Regions from separate parts of the Homo sapiens genome. Here region 2 is linked to region 1. The links come from fine-mapping of genetic effects on gene expression. A gene starts in region 1. The other region holds a variant in brackets. All regions are shown on one strand. Distances are from middle to middle.

Region 1 (2,911 bases):
ATAACCAGACTTCCATTGTGAAACACGTAAAAGTTTTCCATCTCTTTATCCGGCTCTAGCAGTCTGTTATCTGGACCCACCCAGATGAAATCCGTATTTGCATTACCTGTCTTGCTGTCACAGTGGACCATCAGTCTTTCCCCGACCTGAGCCTCATGAATAAAGCCAAGCGCACGAAAGGAACCATTGATGATGCTGTCAGAGCAATTCATAAAGCTATCCTGGAGCAGAAGTACCTGACGCGAGTGCCTGGAGTCAGACCACAGGCGACAGGTGTAATCGTTCTTAAAATCCATCACTGAGCTAAAGTGCCTACGATACCAAAAGACCAGCAAGGAGTACAGGGAACAGTCACAGACAAATGGGTTTCCATGAAGGTAGATGCCTCTCAGCTGTTTTCCTGGCACTAAATTTATGTGGTGCATTGGCATGGAAGGAATTCGGTTATAAGAAACATCTAAAAACATCAGTTCTGCCAGCTTGAACCTTCCAACATACAAATCCATCGGAAACTGTGTGAGAAAATTTCCACTTAAGTAGAGTTTCTGCAACTGGGAGAGCCCTCCAAACGCTGAAGGATCGAGATAGGATATGTGATTGTTGTAAAGCAGAAGCACTTCCAGAACCTTCAACTCTTGGAATACAGCATTTTTCACCGTCTTCAGCTTATTGGACGATAAGTCAAGACACTTCAAATTTGGAGTTGTGGAAAAACTGCCCGTGGAAATGCTGGTGATGTTGTTATGACGAAGAATTAGGGTGTTCAGCTTTGCAAACGATACTGGAATCCACTCAGAATCCAGAAGCCCAATTCTGTTATAACTCAGGTCCAGTCTCTTAATCAGTCTGAAAAGGTTCCCAGGCACCTTGGACAGGTTTTTGTTGGTGCAGCTGACGATGTCAGTGGCACAGATGCAAGCGGTGGGGCACACCCCAGAGGCACCAGGGCCCACAGTCACTGTGATCATCAGCAAACACAGCAGCTCCCTGCAGCCCGGTCTGACGACGGCTCCAAGCAGGGTGGGCAGAGTGTGTACACGTAACGACATTATGGTCGCCTCTGAGTCTCTTCCCGGTGTCTTTTCCACCGGCTCAGCCTCCCACCAGTGAACCTGGCAAACAATTAATAATTCAGAGGGAGTAAAAAGCAGAAACTGACTACCACTAGTTAACCCATAAGAGCCATACCTTACTTTCTTTCCAATAACTTTTGAAATGGGTTTTATTTCACAATAGGGAGCTCTGTGTTGCCTCTTCACTGTTAAATGTATTTTTTCCTCTTTCCTGGGTTAGTCCTGCTTATAAAAATGTACAGTCACATTCTCTCCATACAACCCACCGTCTCACCCACCATCAGAAACTCAATTTTTTCCTAAGGTGCATCCTGCGTTGTTGTTGTTGTTGTTGTTGTTTTAAACTCCCTCCAACAGACACAACTATACGCAAACGTACGCTACAAACAATTAAACGGAAATACTTAGCAACCACCCATCCAGGAAAAAACTCACGGTGCTGGGGAGCCTCGTGGGCTCCGGGGAGGCTGCCTACGCAGTGCCTTCCGAAGGTCTGCGCGTCCGTCTGTCCGTGTCTGTCACTCTTGCACCTTCCGACTTCCTTTCCCTCCGGCTCCCGGCGGGCGGCACCCTCTAGCCGGCTCTCAACTTTGAGGAGTTTCAAGCAGCCGCGGCGGCAGCAGCAGCCCTGGACGCAGCAGCCAAGCTCTTCGCTGGCTCCCGGGGGCTCTCCCGGGTTCCTCTCATTGCAGGCTGAAGGTACCGCCTCGGCGCTCTGGCCGCCGTGTGCCCGCGCGCGGGGCGCCCCGCTCCCAGAGCCGGGGCCGCGGGAGGGGGCGCAGGCAGCCGGGCGGCAGCGGGCGGCCCCGCCTCTCCGCACTCGGGAGGCTGCAGGACCCGGGGTTCCCGCGCGCCCGGGGCCGGGAGACGGGCTGGGGCGCCGGTCCCACCCCTGCGCGTCCTGCCTCCTGCGGGCAGCAGCTCGGAGCCTGCGGGAGGGAGCAGGCTGGGCGCGTGGTGGGGGGCGCGCGATGCGGAGGGGGCGGCGGCGCAGCCAATCCGAGAGGCGGCCGGCGCCCCCTCATACCGCCCCGCGGCCTCGCCGCCTCCTCCCGCTTTCCTCCTCCAGCTCCCACCCGGACCTCTAGAACGGCCGCGCAGAGCGGGGAGGGGGCAGGGGTCCACACCAGAGGCCCAGACTCTGGTCCTTGAGTCAAGATGCCCAACCCACTCGCCTACCAATTACGTCCCTTCGTCCAGCTCCAAGCCGGGCGGTAATGGGGTCCAGGAAGGCTAAAGGGGACACGCCCAGCCACCGAGGGAGGGGTCTCACCCTTGGAGACCCACTTCGCGGCGGCCGCACAGGTCACGTCTCTCTCCCCACCCAGGCCAAGGAATCCCCGGACCTCTTAGAGCTTTGCTTTGGGGCAAGGGCCAAGGAGGCTTTGCCTGCGCCAAGTGCAGTTGACTGTCTGGGTTTACAAAATAAACCCAGAAGCAGCCTGACGTCTCCGCTCGTTTCTAGGGAGGAGGTCGCGGGGAGGGAAGTCGGGAACGTTTCCTCTCCACAGGGATATCTGCTGGGAGGAAGTAACCGGGAAATCGCCACGGGGACACCCCTCACCTCCCTGGGAAAGTTCTATCCCTTTCCTGACTCAGGAGGCGGCAACAGGGATGGTGTCCAATTCAAGAAGGAGGAGGGCAGGAAAGAAGGCTTGGAGCCGACCTTCCGGCTGGAATGCAAAGATAAGAGTATTAACCCAAATAATAATAATAATCCCAGAGCAGACCTTTTTTTCTTTTTTCTCTCTTCTCCTTCCCCTCTTCTCTCTCCCTCTCTCTCTCCCTCTCTCTCCTTTCTCTTTCGTTCTCTCTCTCTCATTTCCTCTGTCTCTGTC
Region 2 (2,911 bases), 140 kb after region 1:
CCCACTTCTGCCATCCAGAACTAGCATAGAGTGGGATAGAATGGCACATGGGCAGTTAATTATAGAACAAAACAGAACCAAAGGTTAAGTAGAGGCATCCCTCAGAGGAAGGAGAGATTTTTCTATCTAGGAGAGTAGGGAAGGCTCTCTGACAAAATTGTCTTTTAACGTGAGTCTTAATGAAGGAGCAGAATTTCAGTAACAGGAAAGGGTTGGGGAACATTCAAAGGTGAGTCACAGAGACAAACATAAAGACATGAGAAAAGGCCCTCTGGGCTTATACAAACCCTATGGTTCCCTGCGGGCTTTCAGAAGATCCCAAGAAGAAAGGATCATATCCCAAGACATAAAAAGTTTACAGAATGCAAAATGTTGGAATTATTCTAACATATTAAATGAATTTGAAACTTTAAAACCTAGATGATGAAGTTTTATGTAAGAAAACATATAAAATTAAAACTATACCAATTAAAAAATAATGTTTTAATCAAAGACACACTTTTTAAGGACTAAGAAAAATTGGGGGAAAGTAAAATATTTAACCATAAAACTGAAAACAAATGTGACATTGATCACTGTGCTCAGCTTCCCAAAATATATATTGCAACATTCCCCTCCTCCCTAAGCTATATCTTCAAAATATATATATTGTTTCCAATATTTGTTAGACATCAAAATTCTTTTTTTTTTTTTTTTTTTTTTTAAGAAAGGGATATCACCATGTTGTCCAGGTTGGTCTTGAATTCCTGGGCCAAGTGATCCTCCTGCCTAAGCTTCCCAGAGTGCTGGGATTACAGGTGGTGAGCCACCACGCCCCGCCAACATGAAAATTTTTAAATGATTGCCAGGATACAGATCAACCTAAGGATTTCTTCACAATTAAAACAAAACCAGTCATCAAAAATAAAAATGACTTTATCCACACATTTCAGAAGCAAAGTATATTTCCACCCAATTATGTATTCCCAGCCAGTGCTTCAAGAAAAATTATACAGCAGCTCTCTGAAATTGCCTGGTGAGAATGTGCTGCCATCATTCCCATTGTTGGTCAATGCAATATTTACATTTAGGGAGACTGTTCAAAGGTCACAAGACAATTATTTGAGAAATTCAGCCACAGTTTGATGGGAAGATAAATGAGTGTCTAGAGAAGTGGGAAGTGGCTGGGCATGGTGGCTTATGGCTGTAATCCCAGCACTTTGGGAGGCCAAGGCAGGAGGTTTACTTGAAACCAGGAGTTCAAGACCAGACTGGGCCACAAAGCAAGAGCCTGTCTCCACAAAAAATTTTAAAAAATTAGCTGGGCATGGGATGCACACTTGTGGTCCCAACTACTTGGCAGGCTGAGGCAGAAGGATCTCTTAAACCTGGGAGATAAAGGCTGCAGTGAGCCATGATCGCACCATGGCACTCCAGCCTGGGTGACAGAGTGAGACTCTATCTCTTAAAAAAAAAATTAAAAAAAAAAAAAAAAAAAACGCCCGGGCGTGGTGGCTCACGCCTGTAATCCCAGCACTTTGGGAGGCCGAGGAGGGTGGATCACCTGAGGTCAGGAGTTCGAGACCAGCCTGACCAACATGGAGAATCCCC[G/A]TCTCTACTAAAAATACAAAAAAATTAGCCGGGCGTGGTAGCACGTGCCTGTAATTCCAGCTACTTGGGAGGCTGAGGCAGGAGAATCGCTTGAACCTGGGAGGCAGATGTTGCGGTGAGCTGAGATCACGCCATTGCACTCCAGCCTGGGCAACAAGAGCAAAACTCCATCTCAAAAAAAAAAAAAAAAAAAAAAGAGAGAGAATTGGGAAGTGATAGGGGCCTGCATAGACTGCTTTTCCTACCTCCTACCCCTCCAACCCCAGATAACTTTATTCTCTCTACCTGAATATGTCTGAAACTCAGGAGACAGGTCTGGGCTAGAGACAAAGATAATAGCTACATTCACTGAGCACTTAGAAATGTGGCGGTGTCATGCTAATAACTTTACATGTGTTCATTTAACCCTCACTTGTTAGGAAAACTGCAGTAATATTGTTCCCATTTTATTGATGAGGTTTCTTCAGGGCAGAGGGGTTGCTTAATAGGCCCAGGGACTCAAGGGCTAGTAAGCAGTGGAGCAGGATCAAACCCAGGGGGCCAACCCCAGAGCCCCTCCCTCTCAGCCAGTGTGCTTTATTGCCCCAATTCTCAGTCATCTGCATACAAATGGGAATTGATAAGGGGATGGTCCGTTGTAACCATCCAAACCAGGACTCTTAAGGGTTTGGGGTGCTACTAATCATTCTGGGGAAACAGGCAGAAACCAGAACTGTTTGGGGCAAATAGGGACATAGGGTTACCTCATTTCCTGACACTCTGAAAATGGGTGGACACACGAGGATAAGAATGTTGAAGAAGAGAAGAAAAGAGCCCTTCAGTGGGCCTTGAGAAAGACCTGGAAGGGAGGGAGAAATAAGAAAAAGAGAGAGAGAGAGAGAAAGACCAACATTTGGGGAACTGCCAGAGAAAGAGAAACCCTCAAAAGATACTAGGGAAAGACAGGATACAAGGGTGTCACAAATACGTGGACTTGAGGGCTGGGTTTCTCAGAGGGAGCAGTCAGTAGTGCCCCTACCCCTCATACTGTAAGAACCAAAAAGTGGCCACTGAAAGGAGCAACAGGGAAATCATCGGTGATTTACTAACAAACATTCCTTGGCTTTGATCCAGTCAGAGCCAAATTAAAGTAAACGGAGGAGTGAGTGGGAGGTGGGGCCCAGACCCAGACCCAGTCAGTGCAAGCAAGTTTTTTTTTTTAAATGTGGCCTTGGAGTGGAGGCAAAAGATAGGACTGTCCTGGAGGTGGAGTCAAAGATGTTTCCTTTCTTTTTCAAAGCAAGAAACTAGAATGTGTTTAATGCTAAAAAGAAGGATCCAG

What was found.
Region 2: its variant is fine-mapped to the expression of PCED1B in whole blood (GTEx, PIP above 0.99).

What each region holds. Positions count from the first base shown.
Region 1 is chr12:47,077,954-47,080,864 of GRCh38, forward strand. It overlaps PCED1B (PC-esterase domain containing 1B), which reads left to right and starts at 1,668. Exons shown (of 4, transcript NM_138371.3): 1 at 1,668-1,772. It overlaps AMIGO2 (adhesion molecule with Ig like domain 2), which reads right to left and starts at 2,006. Exons shown (of 3, transcript NM_001370299.1): 1 at 1,509-2,006; 2 at 1,189-1,295; 3 at 1-1,112. The coding sequence starts at 1,049.
Region 2 is chr12:47,220,659-47,223,569 of GRCh38, forward strand. The region is part of intron 3 of PCED1B (PC-esterase domain containing 1B); the gene reads left to right. Among named protein-coding and RNA genes, the nearest start is that of PCED1B-AS1, 5.7 kb to the left of the region's middle. RefSeq lists enhancers at 1-484, 780-1,511, 1,512-2,242, 2,243-2,911. The variant G/A (reference allele first, on the strand shown) is at 1,591.